Regions from separate parts of the Homo sapiens genome. Here region 2 is linked to region 1. The links come from fine-mapping of genetic effects on plasma protein levels. A gene starts in region 1. The other region holds a variant in brackets. All regions are shown on one strand. Distances are between the middles of the regions. Region 1 holds the start of NUB1 (negative regulator of ubiquitin like proteins 1). Region 2 overlaps NUB1 (negative regulator of ubiquitin like proteins 1).

Region 1 (12,840 bases):
GTTCAAGTGATTCTCCTGCCTCAGCCTCCCAAGTAGCTGGGACTACAGGCATGCGCCACCACGCCCAGCTAATTTTTGTATTTTAATAGAGACAGGGTTTCACCATGTTAGCCAGGATGGTCTCAATCTCTTGACCTCGTGATCTGCCCACCTTGGCCTCCCAAAGTGCTGGGATTACAGGCGTGAGCCACCGCTCCTAGCCCATAAATAATTTTTTAACATGCTGTTTGGAGACATAGTAATTTTATTCAGCATCTTAGTTGGATATGAAGAACATGGAAGAAAGAGAAATCAAGTTAGTGGTGAGGAAAAGTTGTTCACATCTGATTGGGAATCCAGAATTTCAATCACCCAAACAGATGATAGAAGCTAAAAGAAGTTACAAGGTCATTGCATAGGAGGATTACTCTGATTCCTAGGAAACATGGGCTAGGATGCCTTATTTCAGTGGAGGTCATGAATTCCTGTTGCCATAGTCACTGTGAGAAAGGGCTTGGCCTTCTCACCTGTGATTCAGGTAGAATCATTCTGGAAGCATGTAATCAGTCCTCAAATTTTGTGTTCTGGTTTTGAATCTCTGACATATTCTGGTCCAAATTTTTTAACCCAGGTTCATTTGTCTCAATAGTTGGGTAGGTGCAGCTGGGCGCGGTGGCTCACACCTGTAATCCCAGCACTTTGGGAGGCCAAGGCGGGCAGATGACGAGGTCAGGAGATCGAGACCATCCTGGCTAACATGGTGAAACCCCGCCTCTACTAAAAATACAAAAAATTAGCCGGGCATGGTGGTGGGTGCCTGTAGTACCAGCAACTTGGGAGGCTGAGGCAGGAGATTGGCGTGAACCCGGAAGGCGGAGCTTGCAGTGAGCTGAGATTGTGCCACTGCACTCCAGCCTGGGTGACAGAGCAAGACTCCGCCTCAAAAAAAAAAAAAAAAGTTGGGTAGGTGATACACTTACTCTAACAAGATAAAAAAATAAGGAGAGAGATGATAAATAAATAAATCCGTGGTATTAGTACTACTGAATTAAGTTCAGGATCATCTGTTTGTGTTTTATCCGTGTTTGTTTTTTAACCCCTTTTAATGTTAAAAAGAATTCGATATACAATATTAGTCATGTGACTTTAAGTTTAAGGGTGAATAAAAACTAAGGTGACCTTGGAAGTAAGAAGGTGGCTACTCATCACTGTAGGCTTACCATCTGAGAAACCTCCATGGGAGGCCAGAATAACTTACTTCTTTTGCTTTTTTAAACTTAATTCCAGAAGACATCACATATGCATGACAAAGATAAAAGCACAAGTCTGCACCATTTCTGTGTTCTCAATAAATCTTATTGCCTAAAATATTAAGGAACGTTGAACTAAACATGTGTATTTTCTTTTAGCACATTAAAGATGCCATTCCATTGTCTTCTGGATTTATTGTTTCTGAAGTCAGCTGACAATCTTAAAAGGCAATGCATCTTTTCCCCGGCACCTTTTTTTTGTTTAATTAAATTAAATTAATTTTTTTTTTTTTGAGATGGAGTCTCAATCTGTTGCCCAGGCTGGAGTGCAATGGTGCAATCTTTGCTCACTGCAACCTGCATCTCCCAGGTTCCAGCGATTCTCCTGCCTCGGCCTTCCAAGTAGCTGGGATGACAGGCGCCCTCCACCACAGCCAGCTAAGTTTTGTATTTTTAGTAGAGACGGGGTTTCATCGTATTCGTCAAACTCATCTCGAACTCCTGACCTCAGGTGATCCACCTGCCTCAGCCTCCCAAAGTGCTGGGATTACTAGCGTGAGCCACCGTACCTGGCCCTGGCACCTTTTAAGATTTTATCTTTTTCCTTGGTTTTCAATGGTTCTACTAGAATGCACTGGGTGTGGCTGATTTTGTATTTATCCTGCTTAGGAGTCATAGAACTTACAGAATTTGTAATTTGATGTCTTTCATCAGTTTTGCGAAACTTGGACTCTTGGTTATTATCTTTTCAAATATTGTTTCTGCCCCTTTCTCTCTTTTTCTAGAAACCTGAATACCTGGTAGAACTTTTCATCATGTCCCATGTGTCTCTAATGCTTGTTTCTGTATTTTCCATTCTTTCCTTCTATGCTTCAGTTTGGATATTTTCTATTGATGTGCCTGCAGTTCACTAATCGTGTCTTTAGTTTTGTCTAACATCCAGAGTTCACAGCCTCATTTATTACACTTTTCACCTCTAGAGTTTTCATTTGATTTATTTTTATAGATTTCAATACTCAGGTGAAAATTTTCATCTTTTTTTCTGTTTTCTTGAAAATGTTCATCAGAGTTATTTTAATCAGGCAACTCCAATATCTGACTCATCTGTGGGTCTGTTTCTATTGTCTTTTTCTTTTTTTATCTAGTAACTTTTTAATGAGATGCCAAATATAGCTTCTAAAAAGTTGTAGAGGCTTCAAATGTTATCATTCTCTCAGGAGGGTTTTTCCCTTTCCTCCACAAAACCAAAGACAGGAGTGGCCAATAACCTTAATCCAATCAGGGACTGCATGGAGTGAAGGCTGGGCTGAGGTTCTGGTAGGGTTCAAGCTACCGTTGCCCTCCAGTTTCCAACTGGGAACATGGTGTAGGCTCTGCAGTAACCCACTTCCACCACCACCCTAGCAGATCTCAGACTCGAATCTTTGTTTTGCAAGTCTATCAAAAACTTCTGCTTTCAGAGGCCTTCCATTTACATTTCAGTTTCTTGCCCCATACAAGCCTTGAATTCAGCAATTGTCCTTGGAATTTCCCCCTACATCGCTGTGTTGGTTTTGTGTCCCCAGCAGTGGCCCTCTGTGGTCTCAAAGTCTAAATTCTCAGCCTCATGCTTGTATCCAGAACTGGCAAAAGCCCTCACACACCAATACAAGCCACTGCAGACATTAGCTCACCCCTTGAAGGTTCCTCATTCTCTGGAATATCAAGTCCCCCCATTCTTGCCTCAGCAGCTTTCACTGCCTTCAAACAGATGTTTTCTGACTTCGCTTTCTGGCTTTTCTAGTTGTTGTTAGTGGGAGCCTTGGTCTACTGCAAGCTGCTCCATCACACCTGAGCGTGGACATTCAATTTCCTGATGGTCTACTACGTAAATGTAAAAGTGAAACTATCTTTGTTACTCATCTCAGAGAAAGCCCTCAGAAAAAAATGTCAGAACAGTTTCTGTTGTCCTTCTACCTTGCTGCAATTGCTACTGAGCAATCAACGGGCTTTTTCCTGATGTGCTAGAAGCCAACACCATGGCACGGGCTTTTGAGAAAAGAAAGGCTTTATTGTGAGTTGACTGTCAAGGAGACATGAGGAAACCCTCAGCTCTGTCTCCTTGAGCTTGGGGCTGGGTTGGGTTTTATAAGCATAGGGTAATGACGCATGATCGGATTAGATTTTGCGATGAGGTGATGCTGGGATGCTCATCTGACTGGACCCTGCCATGGGGTGACACCAGGGCTTGATCTGATTGCATTCTGGATCTCACCATGCAGTGCCCATTTCTTAATTCAGTCCCTGCTTTGATCTGAGCACTCAGGTTCCGCCCCTGGTTGCATGCTTGGTTCACCTGGGCATCCTCAGGTTACGTGCGAAACCTTCCATCTGGGAGTCCATGCAACTGAAAAACAACTCACAACTTGGGTATATAAAAGGCGAATCAGATTGGTCTGGTGCGGTTATACAGTTATTAATATCCCTTTGTCAGAAGTCAAAATTACCACAAATTTAGATTAAAGATCTATTGGTTTTTATTGATTCATGAATCAGGATGGCATCTTCTCTGAAAATTTAGAAACGGTGCTCCAACGAGCTGGGCAGAGGAGGTGGGCTTTATAGGTAGAAAAGGGCTAAAGAAAGCAGCAACAGGGAACGAAAAACGGATTGGTCACTGCAAGGTTACAGGAGTCCCCTCTCGTCCACACACAGGTGGTGTGTCCCAAGACCCACAGTGGATGCCTGAAACCTCGGATAGTACTGCACCCCATTTTACATACACACACATATATATATACTATATATATACACACACTTCATTTTTCCTATACATACGTACATACCTACGATAAAGTTTAATTTATTAGGCACAGTAAGAGATTAACAGCAATAACTGATAATAAAATAGAAGCGTCACTGTTGAGCACAGCCTTGGGAATAGGACCTTGGAAGTAGGCAGAGCTCCCTAGGCCTTGTGGTCCCTAGTGGCCGTGGACAGCATGGGGGAGGAAATTCCCGGGAAGCAGCCTAATTTCACCCCAGGGAAGCCCCTGGTGGGCTTGTGGAGGGCGGGGTGAAAAGCCGCTGGTTTAGGGAAGGGGTCCAGCCTAGGCTGAGGAATGAGATGCGGGTTGGGACGGTCCCGACCCTTCCCCCAGCCTCTTTCAAGGATTCTGGAGAAACAAAGCCAGGATCCATTTCCTCTTGATGGCTGGCAAACTGAGCCCGGGCGGGAAGTCCTGGAAGACTGAGCCTGGGGTGGCGTTGGACACCAACTCCCAGGTCCTCGCCCCACACGGCCACATCCTCGCCCAGCCCCGCCTCCGCTTAGCTCCGCCCCGTCGCGGCTCCGCCCCGCGGTAACCACGCCCACACAACCGTATCCCCGCCCACAGCTGGCTTCGCCTTGGCCCCGCCCACAACCCTCTTTCCAAGCGGCGGCGGCGGCGGCGGCGCGAAGGCGACAGCGGCGGCGGGGGCGGGGCTGGCCTCACCCGGAATGAAAACAAACGGCGGCCGCTGCCGCATCCGGGCACTCTGCTGGTCGCGGCGGGAGTGGCGTGGCGCAGGTGAGGACACGGCGGCCGAGTGTCCTCGACCCCAGCCTCAGCAGCACTGCTTGGCGCCCCGGTTCCCGGTCCGACTGGGCACCTCTCCTGGCCAGGGGTGGAGCGGCCGCGGGGCGGGGGTGAGCAGCCATGCGTGGAGCTGGGCCGGGGCCGGGGCCGGGGCCGGGAGCGGTGGGCCGGGCTTCGGGACGCGCTGGCCGTTCGGGGCCCTTTGGTTTGCCCTGAGTTAGGCAGAGGTGTGGGGTATTTAAAAGAAAATATTGAGTGTATCGGTTTGGGGAGAGAAAGGAATAAATATGTCTATAAAAAATTAGCCAAATGCTATACTTGAATCGTAACACTCCGAGTATACCATTTGGGATTTATTTGCAATCAAAGCCAGATTTTCTTTGCTATTTAATGACAAGACACTTGATTTTCTCGAACCTTGACGACCTGATTCTATCATTCTCACCTCCTTCCCTTTTATTTTTAATCAAGAATCTTTCATTTTCCTAAGAAAAAATGAATGTGTCTTGACTAGATATAGTTGTGTTTCAACTATATATAATGTATACTTGAAAAGGTGTGGCTAAATGTAGCAATGATCGATTCATTACAAAAGTGAAAGTGAAATTTTTAAAGGATCGTTATAACGTTTCACTTTCTGCTTGGACCACGGAGTGATATTAATGAGTTTCGTCTTTTCTTAGTTACAATGTGAAACATTGTATGGCATGCATGAAACTTTTTCAGTTCTCATTTCAGTTAAAATTAAAAACTGACTTATTAAACTTGACTTAAAATATGTCGCCACTTACTCTGTTGTCTATAACTGAAGTTCCTTAAGTTTCAAGACAGTGGTTTAATTTTTTTTTAACATTAAATCTTATTCGGTGTAACCCTGGAGCTCTTGTTTGCTCCCTGGAGTGTCTGACACGCACTGGGTTTGTAACACTCCTTCGTCCTTCTGTCAAGTGGTGGCTTGGATGGCATCTTTTTAAAAATTTTTTATTTGTTTATTTTTTTAGTAGAGACGGGGTTTCACCATGTTGACCAGGCTGGTCTTGAACTCCTGACCTCAGGTGATCCACTGGCCTCGGCCTCCCAAGTGCTGGGATTACAGGTGTGAGCCACCGCGCCCGGCCTTGGATGGCATCTCTGAGTACCGCATCAGCCTTTCAAATTGCTTGGCTCCAGTAACCAGCCTGTGAAATTACTGTCCCCCAGTGGGGAGACAGTAGGGTTGCTGTGATATTTTATTCAGAATTTCTGAAGATTCATGAGTAGTATGTAAAGTAGTTTTTAAAGTTATTTGTGTTTGAAAAGCTAACGCTCTAAGTACTAATATGCTTTGCTGTGATAAGCCGTTTGTCAGTGCTTGAAAAATGGAGGATTCTCCCATGGGCCACCCAGGTTGCACACAGCAGCCTCATTGGCTGTGTTATTCCTTCCTCTCTTTTCTCCTCCCTGTCCTGATTAGCCTAATTCTTGTCCCCGCACTGACATAAAATAGATTTGAACTTTCTTTTAAAAAATATTTGTTTATGAAATACACAAGCTACCAAAGTTTTCAAAGATTTCAAAGTTGTGTGAATTGGGTTTGGGGGGATGTGGAATACTGGCCCTCAATAGAAGAAAGAAATTTATCTTGGTAATATTAACTCATATTTTTTCCACTCTCTAGAACTTGTCTTCATCATTCAGGGGCTAATAACATTTTTCTTTACTTATTGCTTGTCTGATTTGGGAAACCTTAAAGCGCTGTGCTACACCTGCCAGCTGCCTTACATCTCAGCCGCCTCACTCACCTTTGAATTGCTGTGCTAGTATGGGATGAGTAGACAGCTCCATCGCGGTACATACTTCTCTGGGAGAGAGAAGTTACATACCTGGAACAGGCAAGCAGCAAGGGACTCCATGACGGAAGTTCAGAGTCCAGTGTTGTGGGTGGAAGTTGTGCTCGTTAAGATGCTGCCTAATTTTGTGTCTTTGCCTGAGTCATGGTACAAACTCAGGGCCCTAATTTTCTCAGCTGTAAAATGATCCGATCAGTGTTAGATTTGAATAGTAGGGCCAGGCGCGGTGGCTCAGGCCTGTAATCCCAGCACTTTGGGAGGCCGAGGCGGGCGGATCACAAGGTCAGGAGATTGAGACCATCCTGGCCAACACGGTGAAACCCCATCTCTACTAAAAATACAAAAAATCAGCCGGGCGTGGTGGCGGGCGCCTGTAGTCCCAGCTACTGGGGAGGCTGAGGCAGGAGAATGGCGTGAACCCGGGAGGCGGAGCTTGCAGTGAGCCGAGATTGTACCACTGCACTCTAGCCTGGGCGACAGAGTGAGACTCCCTCTCAAAAAAAAAAAAAAAAAAAAAAAAAAAAAAAAAGTAGATGTGCTGTTAGGCTGTTAATCAGAAAATATGCAAAATTTTCCTAGTATTGTAATCTTTTTAATTTAAAAAATTCTGACATAGAAAATATTTATATATTTATTATTATTTTGAGACGGAGTCTCACTCTGTTGCCCAGGCTGGAGTGCAGTGGTGCCATCTCGGCTCACTACAACCTCTGCCTCCTGGATTCAAGCGATTCTCCTGCCTCAGTCTCCCGAGTAGCTGGGATTACAGGTACCTGCCACCACGCCCGGCTAATTGTTCATATATTTTTTTTTTTTTAGTAGAGATAGGGCTTCACCATGTTGACCAGGCTGGTCTCGAACTCCTGACCTCAGCTCCTGAACTCAGCCTCCCAAAGTGCTGGGGTTACAGGCCTGAGCCACCACACCCATCCGAAAATATTTATTATCGATAGTTTACAGTTCAAGCAAGCTTTTCTTTATATTTAACTACCAGGATGGTTGGCCTTTTGTTTTATGTTAAACTAGCCAAAGTATGAGAGAATTTACAAGCTCACGCCTGTAATCCCAGCGTTTTGAGACCAAGGTGGGTGGATCACTTGAGGTCAGGAATTCGAGACCAGCCTGGCCAACATGGCGAAACCCCGTCTCTACTAAAAATATGAAAATTAGCCGGGCGTGGTGGCGCATGCCTGTAATCCCAGTGAGTAGGGAGGCTGATGCAGGGGAATTGCTTGAACCCAGGGGGCGGAGCTTGCAGTGAGCCGAGATCGCACCACTGCACTCCAGCCTGGGCGACAGAGCGAGACTCCGTCTCAAAAAAGAAAAAAAGAAGTTCACGACTCGAGGGATTTATCTTTCTCTTATTTTCTCTTTTCTCTTAGATAAGAGAATAGCAGATTAAGAAATAGAAACATGTAATAATCCTTGCTACATATTAGCAACTTTGAAATACATATTTTATATATGTAATATATATAATTGAACATATATTTCTATATATATTTTTAGAGAAGTCTGGAGCTCATTTAAACCATAGTAATTTATATTTAATGACAGAGGAAGGGAGCTTTGCTTACCCAACAAAGCACCTTAACATGTAGGTAAGTTATTAACATTTTAAAATGCGATGTGGAGTTTTATTAATGTATTGTTTTGCTTTCAGGGATGGCACAAAAGAAATATCTTCAAGCAAAATTGACCCAGTTTTTAAGGGAAGACAGGATTCAACTTTGGAAACCTCCATATACAGATGAAAATAAAAAAGTTGGTTTGGCATTAAAGGTATTTTTCTTTTAAGACATCAATAATTAGCAGCATTATAAATCTCCTTGGTAAATAAGATTCTGAATTGTCAGGCATGACCATATAAACTTTTGGCATAACCAAAAGCATTAGTGGTGAGCGGGTACCCACTTTTTACTAGGAACTGACAACCTTATTTTTGTTCATTAATATTTTATTCACATGAGGATGTTATCTAATTTTTCAGGCATATATTTTTAATACCATCACAGGATTACATAACATTATTTATCTGGAACTCATTTTGACCCATTAGTGGAACAGTATTGGTGCCAGTAAGTAATTGCATTGTGTGTTCAAAGTGACAGTGTCTTGGCTCATTCTCGGTCCTCCTTGCTATCATCATCTGCTGTGAAACAATTGCTCCTTTTTCCCCCAGTTTTTTTGATGCTCTCACTATCAGTGTTCATTTTTCCAAAATAGGTTTTTTCTAACAGTTGTATCTCAGTTTTTCATGGCATCATCAGAAATGATATTGTATGTAAGTGATGTTTCTAGAAACTGAAGTCTGCTTGCTTTTCTAAGCAGAGAAACAGTACTCATTTTTGCCAGAAATCTATCATACTGGAATTTCCTAGCATGTACTTCTCTGCTCTCATTCAGAGTATCCTGAACATGATGTAACATTTATCAGGGACTAAGGATTGTCATGAGGCATTAAATTGCTCTGTGTTGTGACATAATGATGTGCTTGGGAGGTGACAAACTGTATTAGGGTCCTAGTTCTTCTGTTTCTTCTGTTCCAGGCAGGCCTCACTTTTTCTTTGCAACCCACCTTCTGACCTTGCTTCTGAATTTATTGTTACAGTCTCTTGGTTTAGAAACTAGGTGTGGCATAAAGGAAAAATATTTGACCTTTGTCCCTGGTTCCTGGCAGAGCCAAAACTCTTGGGATTTCCTAAGTGGTAAGCATGATAGGAGCAACCTTTGTGCTCATGAGGCTTGGTTGCCCCTAGATAGCTTCAGGATGGGGCTGGTCACCAAAAGTACCAAGCCGTGATTAGACACTTGAAACTTTCCACCCTCCCCTCCAACCTCTGGGAAGGGGAGATTGAGCTGATGACTAATACTAATGGTCAGTGATTTAATCAGGCCTGCATAATGAAACTTCCATACAAACCCCTAAGTGACAGATTTTGGACAGCTTCCAAATTGGTGAACACATCCACATGTCGGGATGTACACCCCCAACTCCATGGGACAGAGGCTTCTATGCTCAGGACCCTTCCAGACCTTGCCTTAGTACCTCTTCATGTGAATGGTTATTTGTATCCTTTGTAATGAACTATATTCATAAGTATACCATTTTCTGGAGTTCTGTGAGTTGTTCTAGCAAATCATGGAACCTGAAGGGGGTGCTTGTGTGAACCCTCGACTTTGTAGCTAAGTCAGACAAAAGTATGGGTAACCTGGGGACCAGATACTTGGTAACTGGTATCTGAAGTTAGGGCTTTTTTGTGGGCTGAGCCCTTAAACCTGTGGAGTCTAACGCTAACTCTGGGTAGTTAGTGTCAGAATTGAATCGTAGGACTTCCAGTTGGTGTCAGAATTGGCTGGTGACAGGAGGAAGAAAGAAATCCTCACTAGTTAGGTTTTCTAGAAAATTATAGAAAGTTTTTAAAAAAGTATTTATAATATATATTCTAGGTTTTAAAAAGTATGTATATAAATACAAAAATATAAAGAATGTATTTTTAAAATATGTTAAACATCGTTAACATAGGTATATTCTTCCTCTTTTCCTACGTAACTATTAAAAAAATGTATTGCTGGACACAGTGGCGCATGCCTGTAGTCCCAGCTACTCAGGAGGCTAAGGCAGGAGGATCACTTGAACCCGGGAGTTGGAGACTGTAGTATGCTATGGTCCCACCTGTGAATAGCCACTGCACTCCAGCCTGGGCAACGTAGTGAGACCCCGTCTCTAAAAGAAAAAAAAAGTATATATAGGTTTATGTTACTTACAAAATTTTTTTTCCTTTTTTTTTGAGACAAGGTCTTGATCTGTTGCCCAGGCTGGAGTGCAATGGCATGGCCATAGTTCATTGCAGCCTCACACTCCTGGGCTCAAGTGATTCTCCCACCTCAGCCTTGGGAGTAGCTGGGACTACAGGTGCATGCCACCATGCCTGGCTAATATATTTTTAGTTTTTGTAGAGACGGGGTTTCACTTTGTTGCCCAGGTTGGTCTTGAAGTCCTGGGCTTGAGCAATCCTCTCACCTTGCCTTCCAAAGTGCTGGGATTACAGGCATGAGCCATCGCGCCCAATCTATACTCATATCTATAAAGTTTTCCAACTTCACTTTTATCATGAACATCTCTTCTGTCATAAATTTATGCTTACACCATAATTTTTACGTACTACATGGTATTACATTATGAATTTAATGAAACCTTGACCTTTAGGGTTTTTTGAAGTGTTTACTGTTTTATGAGATGTTTAATGAAACATTAACCTCACATGCAGATACAGATTGAGAGGAGTATCCCGTAACTGAAATATTTGGGACTGGAAGTGTGTTTGGATTTTGGAATGTTTGCTTTATACCTACTAGTTGGGCATCCTAATCTGAAAATTCAAAATTCAAAATACTTCAGTGTGCATTTCCTTTGAGCATCTCCAGATGCTGAATTTTGGCGATTTCAGATTTTTAGATTAGAGATACTCATCTGGATTTTTTTGGGGAGGAACCATAATGACTTTGCTCTCAGTAATAACTGGTTCCCATCCTTTCTTGAGCCCTTTCAATCTTCTTTTTTTTCTCAATTCTAAAGCTCTCCCTTACAAATAGTTTTACAACTAGTACCCATGATTCACAGATTTTCATTAAGAGAATTGTTTAAGTCCAACTTGATTTGTTCTCACAAGTTTGAAAAATTGGAATATTTTCTGGGTTTTTTTTTCATTTTCCCTTCCAGTGGAGTTGAACAGTTCATTATACTTTTTAAATAGATCACAGTCACATAAGTCATAGCCCACCCTTTTCTTCTCCTTAGAAGATTCTCTATTATTATTATTATTTTACTATTTGTAGGTAGAAAACATTTATCAAATAAATGTTTTTGTTTTTTGCTTTTTGCTTTTTTTTTTTTTTTTTTTTTTTTGAGGCGGAGTCTTGCTCTGTCACCCAGGGTGGAGTACAGTGGCACAATCTTGGCTCACTGCAGCCTCTGCCTCCTGGGTTCAAGCGATTCTCCTGCCTCAGCCCCCCAAGTAGCTGGGCCTACAGGCACACGCCACCATGCCCAGCTAATTTTTGTATTTAAGTAGTTATGGGGTTTCACCATGTTGGCCAGGCTGGTCCCAAACTCATCACCTCAAGTGATGCGCCTGCCTCGGCCTCCCAAAGTGCTGGGATTACAGGCATGAGCCACCGCGCCCAGTCTCAAATAAGTGTTTTCACTTTTTCCTGGCCTCTCTAAACTCCACACCTCTCAAGATGTCAAACCACAGTGTGGACTGCAGTGTAACGGGGCGACCTCCACTCATCAGAGTTGATGGCCTTAGAGTCTTTCATGCCCTTTTCTATATTTTGCCTTTTTTTTTTTAAGTCAGTATTGCATTTTCTGATTTTTCTTGATAGGACCTTGCTAAGCAGTACTCTGACAGACTAGAATGCTGTGAAAATGAAGTAGAAAAGGTAATAGAAGAAATACGTTGCAAGGCAATTGAGCGTGGAACAGGAAATGACAATTATAGAACAACGGGAATTGCTACAATCGAGGTGTTTTTACCACCAAGACTAAAAAAAGTGAGTAATTTCCCTAAATTTGAGTAGGCACTAATGTCCAGTTAGTGATGAGGTCAAATAAATTGTTGTTGTTTGGAAAGTTACAATCCAAAGTCAGAATTCTTTTAAGTGACTTTACATATTGAACAATTTATCAGCTTGAAAGTCAATGTTACAAATTCTTAAACTGGAACATTCCCAAGGTAGGCTTTTAGAGACCCTCTTGGGCTTCTAAAATGCCACAGAGCTGTATGTCACATTCTGATCCTTTCTAGCGTGTGAACGTTGAGAAATAATGGGGAATAAAGGATTCCCAAGTTTCCTAGAAGCCTGTGCAGGAGGACACAGCACAGAAGGCTTCATCCTTTTCCTGTTCCAGTAGAGGTCAGAGGGCAGTCCGCTGAGTGCTCTCAAGCAGGGCCGAGGAGATCTGGGTGGGGTCACCTCCTCTCATTGCCATGGCCAGGTAGTTTGCATCTAGAAATGTCACTGTGGCAAGGCACCCAGAGCCTCTTGGGACTGATCGATGCCAGCACTCTCAGAAGAAATAAGAGCATAGGCTCCAGCCCTACTGGGTCTGTGGTTTTTCTCCTCATGTGCGGAGACAAGAGATCGTAGAAATAAACACACAAGACAAAGAGATAGAAGAAAAGACAGTTGGGCCCGGAGGACCACTACCACCTAGAC
Region 2 (15,445 bases), 16 kb after region 1:
AGTGAGTGATACAAGCAGGAGACACCTGGTACTCACTAGCTCATTAGTTTTGAATTACTATTTTTTTTCCCTAATGTATTAATAGCTTGCTATGACCTTCAGCACGGTGTTTTATCTGATTTCAGGCTGTTGGCCCATCTGTAAAACACACACACACACACACACGTTTGCCACATACTAGTGAAATCCTAACTTTGAGATCTGGTGGGTTATTTCATCTCCTTGTATGTTTTAAAATGGTGTTTGGAGCACCTCCAGGGCTAGCTAGCGGGTGTATTTCTTCAGCTGATTTTTCTCATTTCCTTCTTTGGTCTACATCAGGGCTGTCAGGGGTGGATTCAGGAAGTGGCATGCAACACACATGCGTAGAAGACCCTGTGGATCAGCCCCCGCTATGGGCTTCTCCAGGGAGACCACAGAAGGTATAGGTAGATTTTCTCCGGATGTGCAACTAGGGCTTCCTGTTCACATGGATCTACAGCACTGTGGTCTCCACTGCCTGAGGAAACAAGCAGTAAAACGGAAAGTTTAAAAAGGACCTTGTCTCCTACAGTTTCAAATAGCCGTCTAGTAAGATGGCTTTATTGTGATGTTTGTGAGTCAGTCAGTTGAAATCCTGGGTGTTTCTGATAAAATGGATAAAAGAGCTATCATGATTAAAGCCTTCTTTTAAAAAATATTTATTTTTTAGAGACAGGATCTTGCTCTGTCACCCAAGCTGAAGCACAGTGGCATAAATATAGCTCATTGCAACCTCAAACTCGCGGTTCAAGCAATCCTCCTACCCAAACCTCCCAAGCAGCTAGGGCCACAGGCATGGGCTACCAGGCCTGGCTAATTTTTAAAAATTTTTTGTAGAGATAGGATCTCTCTGTTGCCCAGGCTGGTCTTGAATTCCTGGGCTCAAGCCATCCTCCCACCTTGGCCTCCCAGGGTGTTGGGATTACAGGCGTGAGCCACCGGGCCTGGCTAATGTCTTTTTAATGGATAATAAATCGCAATTTTGTTTTCCTACAATTTTCACTGGTTTTATTTTACAGAATAGCTGAAACCTTTGGACTTCAAGAAAATTATATCAAAATTGTCATAAATAAGAAGCAACTACAACTAGGTATGTATGGCAAAGTATGCATAATTTTTTAATGAACCAAATATAGAAATAATGACTTCCCTTTTTTTCTCAATGTCTTTTCAAAAATTTGTAGCTTTATTTCATTTATAATCCAAAAGTGATTTAGAAGTTTACTAAAATAAAAATGTAAAGCAGAAAATAGCTTTTCCAATAAATATTTACTGTCTGTTCTATGATAGTGGGAAGAAAGACACTCATTACAGCTTAGATAAAATGTTAGAGAATGGAATGTAAGGTGTGCTGAGTGTAAGATGCCAGTTCCAGCAAATTCTTCTTGAAGGAGAAGAGCTAAGGCTGTGTCAGGACAGTGGGGAGGCCATGGTGGCGTGCGTTCCAGACTGAGAGCCTTATGTCAGAGCACTATGGTGTGAATTTGAGGAACTGAGGAAGGTCCAGTGTGGCTGTGTGTGGAGAATGAGGGGAGGGGAGTGCTTTTTAAGGATGGAGGGGCAAGCAGAGGCCACACTGTGAATTCCCAGGAGACATTTGGCATTGTCTGGAGACATTTGTGGTGCTTATAACTTGGTGACGGGGGAGGTTGTGCTGCTGTCATTTAGTGGGTGGAGGCTAGGGATGCTGCTGAATGTGCAATGCCCAGAACAGGCCCCACAACAAAGACTTGTCCAGTCCCAGATGTCAGTAGCGCAGCTGTTGGGAAACGAGAAACTAGATGACCTTCCTCAGTGTTAGTACATTTCTCCTAAGATACATGGGAAGACATCTGTGCTGCGGAGTGATACACAATTCTGTTTGTGTTTTAGAAAGGTCACGCAGTAGGGGAATGTATTTGAAGGTGGCATGAGTTGACTTGGGGAGACCAGTTAGCTACTGCAGCCATCCATACAAGCACTGTAGCCCACTGGTTTCCAGTGCGTTCCTGTGGCCTCGAGAATGAAGTCCACATTTCTTAGCTTGATCTAAGACAGCCCTTCACAGCTCACCCTAGCCTTGCTTTCCAGCGTCATCTCTAGCAATTTCCCATTGTCTATTTTAGATGTCATGGATATCTTTTCACTGTTGCCTCATCCCTCTGTTAATTCTGTTTGTGGCATCCTTCATTGGACAGAAACCTTGATTTTGATGTCATCAAATCCATTGCCTATGGTTTGTGTTTTGTTGAAGTCCTTTCCCTAACCCCAGGGCCACAAGGATAGTCTACATTTTCTTGAATATTAGCTTAATCTATAAGAGGTCTTCAGTCTGTCCAGAGTCCCCCTTTCTATATAAAGTTTAAGGGTTCCTTTATTTTTCTTCCTATATAATTCATTAAATAGTCTGTCTTTTCCCTGCTGATTGGTGGTGACCCTTTTTGGGGGGCCCTGTTCCTATATTTTCTGTTCTTCCTACTCACCTGTGGTGTTTTTTATTACTGTGGCTTTGTTGCAGTCTTAAAATCTGGTGACCTCCCCCCACCCTTGCTTTTTTTTTTTTTTTAATCAAGATGGCTTAACCACTGGTGGACCTTTATTTTGTGTGTTAATGTTAGAAAGGTTGTCATATTTCTCAAAAGAAAAAAATCCAGCTAGTTTTCCAGAAATGTGTTCACATTTGTGTTTTTTAGTTCACAATATTATTTGTTATTTTAAAATCTGTTTGCATCTATGTTTACCCTTTTTTATTTTGTTTATTTGCATCTTTGACATAATTTTTGTTAGATTTGTGTATTTGGCTAATTTATTCATGGAGCCAGCTTTTGATTTTGTTACTGTTTTCTTTCATTCTGTTTCACTGATTTCTGCCCTTTATTTCTAATTTATGTATGAGGAAACTGAGTCCTAGAAGATAGGTAGTTTATTCAGGGCCACAGAGTTAAAACGGTAGATGGAGCCCATGGTCTTTGCTTTTATTTATTTATTTAGAGATAGGGTCTCTATCTGTCACCCAGGCTGGAGTGTGGTGTGCGATTGCAGCTCACTGCAGCCTCCACCTCCCAGGTGCAAGCAATCCTCCCACCTCAGCTTCCCACTGAGTAGCTAGGACCACAGGTGCATACCACCATGCCAGGCTAATGTTTTATTTTCTGTGGAGACGGGGTCCACTGTGTTGCCCAGGCTGATCTTGAACTCCGGGGCTCAAGTGATCCACCTGCCTCAGCCTGCCAAAGTACTGAGATTACAGGTGTGAACCACCACGCCCTGCTGGTCTTTGCTTTTAACCGTGACAGACTGCAGTACAGCTTCTTGTTTGTAGCTGTGAATTGGCTTTATTATTTTTTCAACTAGAGGGTAGGAGAGGTGTGTTATACTTTCTCATTTTCCGTTTATATTGTCTAGCACAATGTTCTCCCTGTAGTAGATTATCAAATATCTGTTGCTTTGATCTGGTCTTAGGCTGAGAATAAAGAAGATTAGAAAAGATGAATTTAGTTGATTCTATTGTCGCTAGCTGATTTTAACCACTGCTTAACAGTGACATAGTTACAACCAAATGTAGGCATATTTTTACCAATTATGTGGCGTGATGGTATGCAGGATTAAGAATTCCATTTTGTCCAGGAGCAAGGCCTGATGTCTGTAACCCAGCACTTTGTGAGGCTGAGGTGGGAGGATCACTTGAGCCCAGGAGTTCAAGACAAGCTGGGCAACATAGTGAGACTCCATCACTGCGAAAAATACAAAAATTAACTGGGTGTGATGGCATGGGCCTGTAGTCCCAGCTCCTCGGGAGGCTGAGGTGCAAGACTTGCTTGAGCCCAGGAGATGAAGGCTGTGGGGAGCCATGATCGTGTCACTGCACTCCAGCCTGGGTGACAGAGTGAGACCTTGTCTCAAAAATAAAAACAATTCCATTTAACATAGAAAATGGACTGTTACCTGGTAAGCTTAATGGCTTTTTAAAATAATAGGCAGTTCTGATTTTTATAGGGAAAACCCTTGAAGAACAAGGCGTGGCTCACAATGTGAAAGCGATGGTGCTTGAACTAAAACAATCTGAAGAGGACGCGAGGAAAAACTTCCAGTTAGAGGAAGAGGAGCAAAATGAGGCCAAACTCAAAGAAAAACAAATTCAGAGGACCAAGAGAGGACTAGAAATACTGGCAAAGAGAGGTACCCAGAGCTCTGGGCTTGTCACCCACTCAGCTGCTTGGGGGCAGCACTGGATCACACAGTTGGGGGATCATGGCTCTCACTGAGTCTCACCTCAACAGTCTAACATTTTTAAGGCTGTCATCATCATAACTGTTTAACATTGAGTTCATGGAGGTCCTTTTGGTTTTGTTACAGCAGCAGAGACAGTGGTGGATCCAGAAATGACACCGTACTTAGACATAGCTAACCAGACAGGCAGATCAATCAGAATTCCCCCATCAGAAAGAAAAGTAAGTACTATGAGAAATGTGTGGCCTGTTCTTAGATTTGTTGTCAGGGCAGAGGTGGTTTTTTAGTTGCTTTATGTTGGAAGTGTTGTAAAGGGTTGGAAACAGTGCTCCATCTCCAGCCTCGTAAACAGAAAATGTCACCACGTGGTGAGCACTGGCATCCAATGGGCCTCACCCTGTGCTTTTCAGCGCATTAGTACAAAATGTCATGTCTCACTGTCCTGGAGCAGTGACTTTCAACATACCTGAGGACACGACCCACTGCCTTCAGTGCATGCAGCTTCCTGTGGCAGTGCTTTACATTTAGTTTATTTTACTAGAGAACCTTGTCCCCTAAGGGATGGATCAGAATAGGGGTAGGGAAACTGTGTCGTTTGGGAAAAGTCCACAGGTGATTCTGACTTCTCTTCCCTATTTCCTCATACTCTTTCCCTGTTCTATAATTTGGGATAGGTAGGCGGAGGTTTAATCTTAAACATATCTGTGGGTTTTTTGTTTGTTTTTTTGTTTTTGAGACGGAGTTTTGCTCTTGTTGCTCAGGCTGGAGTGCAATGGCTCAGTCTCAGCTCACTGCAACCTCCGCCTCCTGGGTTCAAGTGATTCTCCTGCCTCAGCCTCCTGAGTAGCTGGGATTACAGGCATGTGCCACCACGGATGGCTAATTTTGTATTTTTAGTAGAGACAGGGTTTCTCCATGTTGGTCAGGCTAGTCTTGAACTCCCGACCTCAGGTGATTTGCCCACCTTGGCCTCCCAAACTGCTGGGATTACAGGCGTGAGCCACCGAACTCTGCCGTGTTTTTGTTTTTTTAAGACACAGGGTCTTGCCCTGTCACCCAGGCTGGAGTACAGTGGCACCATCATAGCTCACTGCAGCCTTAACCTCCTGGGCTTGAGCGATCCTCCCGCCTCCGCCTTCTGGGTAGCTGGGACTGCAGGTACACACCACCATGTCCAGCTAATTTTTTTTTTTTTTTTTTTTGAGATGGAGTCTCGCTCTGTTGCCATTCTCCTGCTTCAGCCTCCTGGGTAGCTGGGATTATAGGCACGCACCACCATGCCTGGCTAACTTTTGTATTTTTAGTGGAGACAGGGTTTTGCTATGTTGACCAGGCTGGTCTTGAACTCCTGACCTCAGATGATCCGCCCGCCTCGGCCTCCCGAAGTTCTGGGATTACAGGTGTGAGCCACTGCACCCAGCCCCTTGGGGGCCTCTATAGCAGCATTCTGGAACTTGGACTCTAAGATCAATCTCTGAGAAAGGGTTCAGTAGCTTCTTATAATGAATGACTATGGGTCAAATTAATTTTAATTTTTCTGTTTTTAAGGGATGGTTTTGAGTAGGCTTCATTCTATGAGTTACTCTGTTTAAAATTAAAGATTAAAGTTTTTTTTTTTTTTTTCTTGAAAAGGAGTCTTACTCTGTTGCCCAGGCTGGAGTGCAGTGGTGCGATCTCAGCTCACTGCAGCCTTCGCCTCCCTGGTTCAAGCAATTCTCCTGCCTCAGCCTCCCAAGTAGCTGGGAGTACAGGTGTGCCCCACCATGCCTGGCTAATTTTTGTATTTTTAGTAGAGACGGGGTTTCGCCATGTTGGCCAGACTGTTCTTGAACTCCTGACCTCAGGTGATCCACCCACCTCGGCCTCCCAAAGTGCTGGGATTACAGGCATGAGCCACTGCGCCCGGCCGGATTAAAGTTGTTTTCATAACAGAACTGTGGATCAGTGTTTGAGTTATCAGTAGATTGATGTTTGTCTTTTTTTGTGTGTGTGTGAGGCGGAGTCTCGCTCTGTCATCAGGCTAGAGTGCAGTGGCACAATCTTGGCTCACTGCAACCTCCGCCTCCCGGGTTCCAGCGATTCTCCTGCCTCAGCCTCCTGAGTAGCTGGGACTACAGTGCACGCCACCATGCCCAGCTAATTTTTGTATTTTTAGTAGAGACGGGGTTTCACCATGTTGGCCAGATGGTCTCAATCTCTTGACCTCGTGATCCGCCTGCCTCGGCCTCCCAAAGTGCTGGGATTACAGGTGTGAGCCACTGTGCCCGGCCAATGTTTGTCTTTTGAAAATGATGATTACTTGCCCACTGCTCTCTTACATTGAATGACGACATCCAGATCTTTTTGGAAAACCTTTATCACAGGGGTTCCCACCCCACAGGCTGCAGATGGGTACCAGTCCGTGGCTTGTTAGGAACTGGGCCACATAGCAGGTGAGCAGCAGGCAAGTGAGCGTCACCGCCTGAGCTCCACCTCCTGTCAGATCAGCGGCGGCATTAGAGTCTTAGGAGCATGAACCCTATTGTGAACTGGGCATGTGAGGGATCTAGGCTGTGCACTCCTGATGAGAATCTAATGCCTGATGACCTGAGGTAGAATGTTTTCACCCTGAAACCATCTGCCTTCCTCCTTGTCCATGGAAAAATTGTCTTCCATGAAAGCAGTCCCTAGTGCCAAAAGGTTGGGACTACTGCTTTATCAGACTGAATTATGCGAACATTTAAATTGAAAAATCTAATGAACTTCAAAAAATTTTGGATCACCTTTTAAAAATTGTTTTGGGGCCGGGCGCGGTGGCTCACGCCTGTAATCCCAGCACTTTGGGAGGCCGAGGTGGGTGGATCACAAGATCAGGAGATCGAGACCATCCTGGCTAACACAATGAAACCCCATCTCTACTAAAAATACAAAAAAATTAGCCAGGCGTGGTGGTGGGCGCCTGTAGTCCCAGGTACTCGGGAGGCTGAGGTGGAAGAATGGCGTGAACTCGGGAGGCAGAGGTTGCAGTGAGCCGAGATCGCGCCACTGCACTCCAGCCTGGAAGACAGAGCGAGACTCTGTCTCAAAAAAAAAATAAAATAAAAAAATTTGTTTTGGAAATACTAAAGTTGACAAACAACTTCTGAAAAAACTAGATGATTAAGAATAGAAAGTGAGGCCGGGCACGGTGGCTCATGCCTGTAATCCCAGCACTTTGGGAGGCCGAGGCGGGCAGATCACGAGGTCAGAAGATCGAGACCATCCTGGCTAACACGGTGAAACCCTGTCTCTACTAAAAATACAAAAAAAAAAATTAGCCAGGCGTGGTGGTGGGTACCTGTAGTCCCAGCTACTTGGGAGGCTGAGGCAGGAGAATGGTGTGAACCTGGGAGGTGGAGCTTGCAGTGAGTCGAGATCGCGCCACTGCACTCCAGCCTGGGTGACAGAGCGAGACTCTGTCTCAAAAAAAAAAAAAGAATAGAAAGTGAAATGAATGCCCTTTTTAAAGATACAAGCAGCCGGGCACCGTGGCTCACGCCTGTAATCCCAGCATTTTGGGAGGCCAAGGCGGCACATCACCTGAGGTCGGGAGTTTGAGACCAGCCTGGCCAACATGGTGAAACCCCATCTCTACTAAAAATACGAAATTAGCCGGGCATGGTGGCTCATGCCTGTAGTCCTAGCTGCTCGGCAGGCTGAGGCAGGAGAATCGCTTGAACCCAGGAGGCAGAGGTTGCAGTGACCCGAGATCGCACCACTGCCCTCCAGCCTGGACGACAGAATGAGACTCCGTCTCAAAAAAATAAAATAAATAAAATAAAAATGATACAAGCATTACTGGCTGCTTTTTAATATGTTTAGTCTGAATAGAATATTAGAAGTAGAATCCAGATCAGTGGATACGAAAATAAACTAATGAAAGCAAAGGGCCAAGTGCTGGTTAGGATTGTATCAGCTATAATAAATGAAGTGTTTGGCTTCAGTATTTAAATGAAATAAAGCTTTAATTAATTATATTTTTCTTAATTTTGGCTTTTAGATTGAGTTATGATCTTGTTTTCATTTTTTTTACTTTGTTTTTTAAAAAGTAATATGCTTTTAATATAATTTGCCTTATTATATTTTAAAGTGATGTTTTTTAAATTTGTATTTTTTCCTAGGCCCTTATGTTAGCTATGGGATATCATGAGAAGGGCAGAGCTTTCCTGAAAAGAAAAGAATATGGAATAGCCTTGCCATGTCTGTTGGACGCTGACAAATATTTCTGGTAGGCGCTTTTGTACTTGGTGAACACCAGCTTTAAGGAAGATGGCCCAGACTATACAGAAC[AC/A]CCTGCCATGCCCTTGAGACTGCAGACTTTCATCTACAACAGTGGTTAATGTAAAAGAGTAGTTATGGTGTAAACTGGTGAATTTCTTCTTCCCTTTGTATTTCTAATTGACCTTTCCTCCCTGTAAAGAAAAGAATTTTCAAGCAGGTAGGATATCCTCTCTTCTTCTGTACATGTGCTATGTTGCTAGTCGGAACTTTCCATTATAAAGTTTCCTGTCAGCTTTTCACCTAATGGTTTTGGGGTAGTATTGATGATTATTCCTCAAATCCGTTGTTTAAGAGCTGTATAATGGTGATATTATTCCTTCTGTACTTATTTTTTTTGAGACAGAGTCTCACTCTGTCACCCAGGCTGGAATGCAGTGGCATGATCTCAGCTCACTGCAACTTCCATCTCCTGGGCTCAAGTGATCCTCCCACCTCAGCCTCCTAAGTAGCTGGGATCACAGGTGCACATCACCACAGGTGCACATCACCATGCCCAGATAATTTTTTTGTATTTGTTGTAGAGATGAGGTTTCACTATGTTGCCCATACTAGTCTCAAACTCCTGGGCTCAAGTGATCCACCCACCACAGCCTCTCAAAGTGCTGGTATTACAGGTGTGAGTCGCTGTGTCGGCTTTTTTTTTTTTTTTTTTTTTTTAATTATACAGATGGGGTCTCCCTGTGTTGCTCAGGCTGATCTTGAACTCCTGGACTCATGTGATCCTCCTGCCTTGGCCTCCCAAAGTGCTGGGATTACAGGTGTGAGCCACCGCACCCAGCCTCCCTTCTGCATTTATTGCTGGAATTCTGAAAAATTTGTTTTTGCTCATCAGTTATTTTATATGTGGAGGTACAATTTGTATAGGAAAGTTAGAATAAAATACTTTGTTTCTTTCTCCTTATTTTCTTGTTTTCAGAATAAATGAGTTGCTTCACTATCACCCTCCAAAGGTGACCAAAGAGGTTTCTTTTTCTTTTCATTTTCTTAAGTGTCATTATTAACTCATGGATTTAAAACATTTGATGTGTTTCAAACTTCAGTGCTTAAATTGGTCATGCTGGCTGGCAGGCAGCCCATGTTTTTTTGACCTGACCCTGCTAGTCTTTGCAGTCTCTGATTTCTGGAATCCAAAGATACTCCAGGCTCATCTTGGGCATTTAATGCCCAGACCAGGAATCAGCAATTTCCCAAGGAGTCCTGGTTCCTCTTCATGGGAAACGGTACTAAGAGACTATGATGCAGACATATTCAACATTTGAAAAGTAGACTTGATTTTTTGAAAATGGTCAAAAGTTAACAAATTTAGTGTTAACTTCTTTTCTGTTTTGGTGCATTCCCAAGATAATACTGTATACTCCCAGAAGATGAATGCAAATATTTATAGTTTTCCATTGGTCAGTGCCTTTGGGTTCTAAGTGAACAAGTCCCAACTTTAACGTACACAAAAAAGGAATTGGGAGGGGAGGGGCCGGGCTGGGAATAGTGAGAATGAGGGCTGGTTTGTGCTTCTGGGGTCTCTGTCTCTGCCTCTTTCTGGATGTCAGTTTCATTCTCTTCTGCAAACAGTGTAGGGTAAACAGGCTTTAAATTAGGTCCTAAAAGTTTAGGTAAATTTTTCATTCCCTTCCATAGTTGTTTCTAATTTTTTATTATGGAAAATTTCAAATAGTCATAAAAATAAAAATTAGTATAATGAGCTTCCATATACACTCATAACTAAGCTTCTGCAGTTATAAAGACATGGTTGATCTTCATACATCTGTGTGAGCCTCCCTCAATCTTTTTATCCTGGACAAATCCTTGAAATAATTTTTAGGTCTCAGGGAACCATTGAATACAAATTTGGCTACATCTTCAGTTCATGATACATTAACATGTCCGGTAAGTGGTAGGTATAATAATGAAATAATAATTAACAATGTCTTTCTAAGTAGAGAAAGTTTTTTTTTTCCTGGGCATCTATTTATCCTGGGCATCTATTTATCCTGGCCAACTTGTTAGCATATTTTTGTGTGTGTGTGATTTCTCTCTTTTCATAAAGGAAATCAGCAGTAATGTAAGCCAAATAGAATGCAGATGGAGGAAACTTCAGTTTTTCCATTTCCTTTTCCATTTGACTTTTCCCCCTTACTTCTCCAAGTAAGCTAGAAGTTTTGTCACAACTTCCTACCATATGTCTTGGAGTATGGTATGTAGTATGACCAAGAATAGTTTCTTTCCCCAAATTGTATGAAACAGTGACTTCCTGGCAGTGCAGAACGGTGACCCTGAGGTAGGGAAACATGAGGGGAGCTCAGTGTCTGGAGAAGTTTCAGGTTACGGGGCAGGGAGGGCAAACCCAGGCAGAGCCTTGTGCTCCCTGGAGTTAAAGAGATGGAGCTGGGCTTGCAGGAGGCCAAGGAGGTGAGAGGAGCAAGCTGCCAGAGAGAGGGTGTCAGAGAGCTTCAGAGGAGCCCTTTTGAGTCTTCTGCTCAGTAATGATCAGCACATGTGTGTGAGGAAACCGCCCAGGGCTGGGCAAGGTACCACATGAAAGAAGCAGGGAATAATCCTCCGAGTTCATAGAAGGCCAGGAATAGTTTATGTTCCCACCAGCCAGAGTGGAGGATTTGGTAGTCACAGGGCGTCAAATAGAGTCTTCAGAAGGGTGTTGCCTCAGCACTAGGGCATAATTTGGTTTCACTTAACAAAGCTTAAAAGCTACTCCTGAACAGTACCCTTAACTTACCGTTTTCAAATAAGTGCATCCCTAACAAAACTCAATAATTTAGCAATTCAAAAATATCCAGCATCCACTGAAAAATTAGCAGGCATGCAAAGAAACAAGCAAATGTAACCTATAACAAGCAAAAAAATCAGTCAGTAGCAACAGATCCAGAAGTGACACAGAAGATAGAATTAGTAGACAAGGACATTAAAACAGTGACTGTAATCCATCTGCTGAAGAAGGCAGAGGAACAACTGAACATGTCAGATAAAGACATGGGAGACATTCAAAAGACCCACATTAGAATGTAAGAGATGAAAAGTACAACATCCAAGATGAAAAGTACATTAGGTGGGATGAACTGCAGAATAGACACTATAGAAGAGAAGATTAGTTAAATGTTACATAAGGCAATAGAAACTATCTGAAAAAACAGAGAAAAGGCTAAAAAAAAAAAAAAATGAACAGAGCATCTGCAAGCTGTGGCACAATTTCAGGCGGCCTAAAATGCATGTAATTGGAGTCCCTGGAAAGGCAGACATGTGGGACAGAAACAATACTTGAAGAAAAAAATGGCCATTAATTTTTCCCAGTTTGATGAAAACTATAAACCCCCAGATGCAATGACTTTAATGACCCCAAGTACAAGAAATATCAGAAAAAAACTACACTACAGCACACTATAATCCAATTCCCTAAAACCAGTAATAAAATTGAAAATGACTTTTTAGCTAACCTTTCTTGAAAAAAGTTAGGTAAGTTTGGCTTATTTTTTTATTTTATTTTTTCAGACGGAGTCTCACTCTGTCGCCCAGGCTGTAGTGCAGTGACGCAATCTTAGTTTACTGCAATCTCCGCCCACTGTAACCTCTGCCTCCTGGGTTCAAGCGATTCTCCTGCCTCAGCCTCTCAAGTAGCTGGGATTACAGGTGCCCACTACCACTCCCGACTAGTTTTTGTATTTTTAGTAGAGACGGGGTTTCACTATGTTGGCCAGGATGGTCTTGAACTCCTGACGTCAGGTGATCCGTCCGCCTCAGCCTCCCAAAGTGCTGGGATTACAGGTGTGAGCCACCGCGCCTGGCCTAAAATTTTTATGTTAAATAAATATTAATTTCAAGAAAGGTAAGCCTGGCCGGGCGCGGTGGCTCACGCCTGTAATCCCAACACTATGGGAGGCCGAGGCAGGCAGATCACGAGGTCAGGAGATCAGACCATCCTGGCTAACAGGGCGAAACCCCGTCTCTACTAAAAATACAAAAAATTAGCCGGGCATGGTGGCAGGCGCCTGTAGTCCCAGCTACTTGAGAGGCTGAGGCAGGAGAATGGCAGGAACCCGGGAGGCGAAGCTTGCAGTGAGCCGAGATTGCACCACTGCACTCCAGCCTGGAGGAGAGAGCGAGACTCCGTCTCAAAAACAAAAACAAAAAAAAACAAAAAAAAAAACAAAAAAACTGTAAGACAAACATAATAAATTTCTGTTAAATAACCGACTTAAGCTCAAATGGGATTTAATTTTTGTTGTTGTTGTTTTTGAGACGGAGTCTCGCTCTGTCGCCCACGCTGGAGTGCAATGGCACGATCTCGGCTCACTGCAACCTCCGCCTCCTGGGTTCAAGCAATTCTCCCACCTCAGCCTCCCGAGTAGCTGGGATTACAGGCACCCGCCATCATGCCCCGCTAATTTTTGTAGAAATGGGGTTTCACCATGTTGGCCAGGCTGGTCTTGACCCTCTGACCTCAGGTGATCTGCCCGCCTCGGCCTCCCAAAGTGCTGGGATTACAAGCGTGAGCCACTGTGCCTGGCCAGGATTTAATTTTTTGAAAGCTAGGCTCAGTAGATTTTATTTAAATAAATATTTTACGTTTATTTTAATATCGTCAGCATGAAAATGTAACAGTGTTGAATATTAATGCTACTAAAATTGTAAACCAAAGCAATGTTAATAAAAGTACACTCTAAATGAAATTTTTTATTTTTATAATTTTTTTTTTTTCTTTAGAGACAGAGTCTCTATGTTGTTCAGGCTGGTCTCAAACTCTTGGGTTCAAGTGATTTTCCTGCCTCGGCCTCCCAAAGTGCTGAGATTACAGGTGTGAGCCACCACACCCAGCCTTCTAAATGCAATTTATACCAGGCTTTAAGAAACCACTTTGCCCCAAGCAAATGATCAGGTTTAAATATAGTTTTATATATAATAATAAGTGTTGATTTCTCAAAACTAAAAGGATGACATGTACCCCTCTAATATGAGACCTCTGCTTTGGGTTTTTTGTGTGTTTGTTCATTTTGTTGGTTTTCTTCTCTCTCTTTTTTTTTTTTTTGGCTGCACAAATAAATACTCACTCCTGGGTCAAACTTGAGATAAGTGCATATTGATTTTATTTTTAACTGACATGAGGCCATTTCTGCCCACGCTCTTGATGCTTAGTAAAACATGAACGAGCCTGTTAAAGCAACATGCAGGAGATGGAGAAGTTCGGCCACATGCCCATTGCTTTCCTGCGAGTGGCAGGAGAGTCTTCTGTCACTGGGACCAGAATGTGCCTAGAGGCAGGAAATCTCAACACGACTGTGAGATCAGACCACAATCCACAAAGCGCTGCTGTTTCTCTCAAAGGCAGGTTCTCAGGCTGAGCCGTAGATTTGGAGAAAGCACCCCTCACCCAGCTCCACATCTGTGTGTCTGCGTGCACACGTGTGTAAAACATGGTGTATGTGTTCTCAAACATTCACGAAATTAGAAATGTTGAGAGAGATGAAAATAAATATAAAAATACTGCTGTGATACATTTTTCTTGCCGCACCCACAACTGGACTGTGTACATGGGCCCTCTTTAGGAGACTACTGTTTTAAAGAGTAAATGACAAAATTAAAGTCCTTTTTTTTTTATTCCATGCATATTTTGATAGGCAGGACAGGAAGCTTGAGGCCATGTGGATTTTGTAGTTTTATACAAGAGCATTCTTATTTTTAGTAGAACACCAATGAACATAAAGAGAGAAAACCTTGTTCATATACAATGTGTGGTTCCAAATGTTCTTATTGAAGACTTGAGACCTAGATTGGCATTAGGAATTTTTAATGTAATCATAACTTAAAATTAGTCACCTTGATGGCTGTCTTTGTCAGTGCTCCTCCTGGAGCACACTGACTTCTGTTGCTGTCTTTCTTCCCTTTGCTGCGCCTGGGTTCAGCCTGCTGCCACGAATACGGAGTCAAATTTTGCCTGCACACAGGCCCTCAGAAATCAGCTGGGCCGTTAGAGCCTGGTGCTTTCTGGATTGTTTTTCCCCCAGCTTGAATATGATTGAACATGAATGCCTTGTCAGAGCCGTCATCAGCTGAGGCATTCATAGTACGTAGGGATTTTTTTGGTGTCTTTAAAGAAGTGGTGTTCAGCCCTGGCTGTACACTAGAATCAGCTGGGGAGACTCTGGCAGTATAACCACCAGGCCCAACCCCCAGAAATTTCTGTTATGTTTGGTCTGGGTGGGATCAATGATTCTTAAAGAAAGAAAGAAAGAAAGAAAGAACGTTGCTCTGGCCCAGGTGATGCTGATTTGCAGTCAGGATTGGAAGTCACAGCTTTAAAGCATGGTCTTCCCCGTATTTGCTGAGGGCCTCTGAAACAGTGGCCCTGGGTTCTGCTTCCTATCAAGGGGCTGCATGTGTGTCCTGGGGCAAGTGGTGGTAAGCTTTGATTCCTAAGCCCTGATTTCTGATTTCTCTTTCTTTCCCCCATTAGAAGGATGAGATTATAAACACAGCTCCCTTCCTAAACATTAGGATCTCTCTTTTAGAGCAGTCAGCCTTTGAATATATACCAAGAACGGGGAAAGAATTCCAGTCATTCACAAAAAGGTTTCAAATGCTAAAAATGTTTCAAATGCTGCTTGGCAGTGATGTCACTGTCCTTCTCTTTCCAGTGAGTGTTGCAGAGAGCTGCTGGACACAGTGGATAACTACGCCGTCCTCCAGCTGGATATAGTGTGGTGTTACTTCCGCCTGGAACAGCTGGAATGCCTTGATGATGCAGAAAAAAAATTAAACTTGGCCCAGAAATGCTTTAAAAATTGTTACGGAGAAAATCATCAGAGACTGGTCCACATAAAAGTATGTTCCTGGAATTCATCTTATGTCTCGTTGAGTCCATTTCTAGCATTTGTGTTTATTCCTGTTAAAGTATTTGAACTACTGCCAGAAG

Evidence for each region. A credible set is the group of variants that fine-mapping cannot tell apart. PIP is the chance, under the fine-mapping model, that this variant and not a neighbour inherited with it causes the effect. Protein levels are from antibody-based Olink assays in UK Biobank. Linkage for the fine-mapping came from a reference panel and not from the study's own genotypes, which makes the PIPs less certain.
Region 2: its variant is the best candidate, but not a certain one, in a credible set for the plasma level of the NUB1 protein (UK Biobank, PIP 0.60).

What each region holds. Positions count from the first base shown.
Region 1 is chr7:151,337,067-151,349,906 of GRCh38, forward strand. It overlaps NUB1 (negative regulator of ubiquitin like proteins 1), which reads left to right and starts at 4,746. Exons shown (of 15, transcript NM_001243351.2): 1 at 4,746-4,780; 2 at 8,282-8,400; 3 at 12,007-12,174. The coding sequence starts at 8,284. RefSeq lists enhancers at 3,018-3,077, 3,208-3,297, 4,367-4,868, 12,616-12,840 and silencers at 4,466-4,665, 4,836-5,015.
Region 2 is chr7:151,351,772-151,367,216 of GRCh38, forward strand. NUB1 (negative regulator of ubiquitin like proteins 1) reads left to right here. Exons shown (of 15, transcript NM_001243351.2): 5 at 1,041-1,111; 6 at 3,997-4,179; 7 at 4,357-4,451; 8 at 8,370-8,476; 9 at 15,168-15,354. Among named protein-coding and RNA genes, the nearest start is that of NUB1, 18 kb to the left of the region's middle. The variant AC/A (reference allele first, on the strand shown) is at 8,539.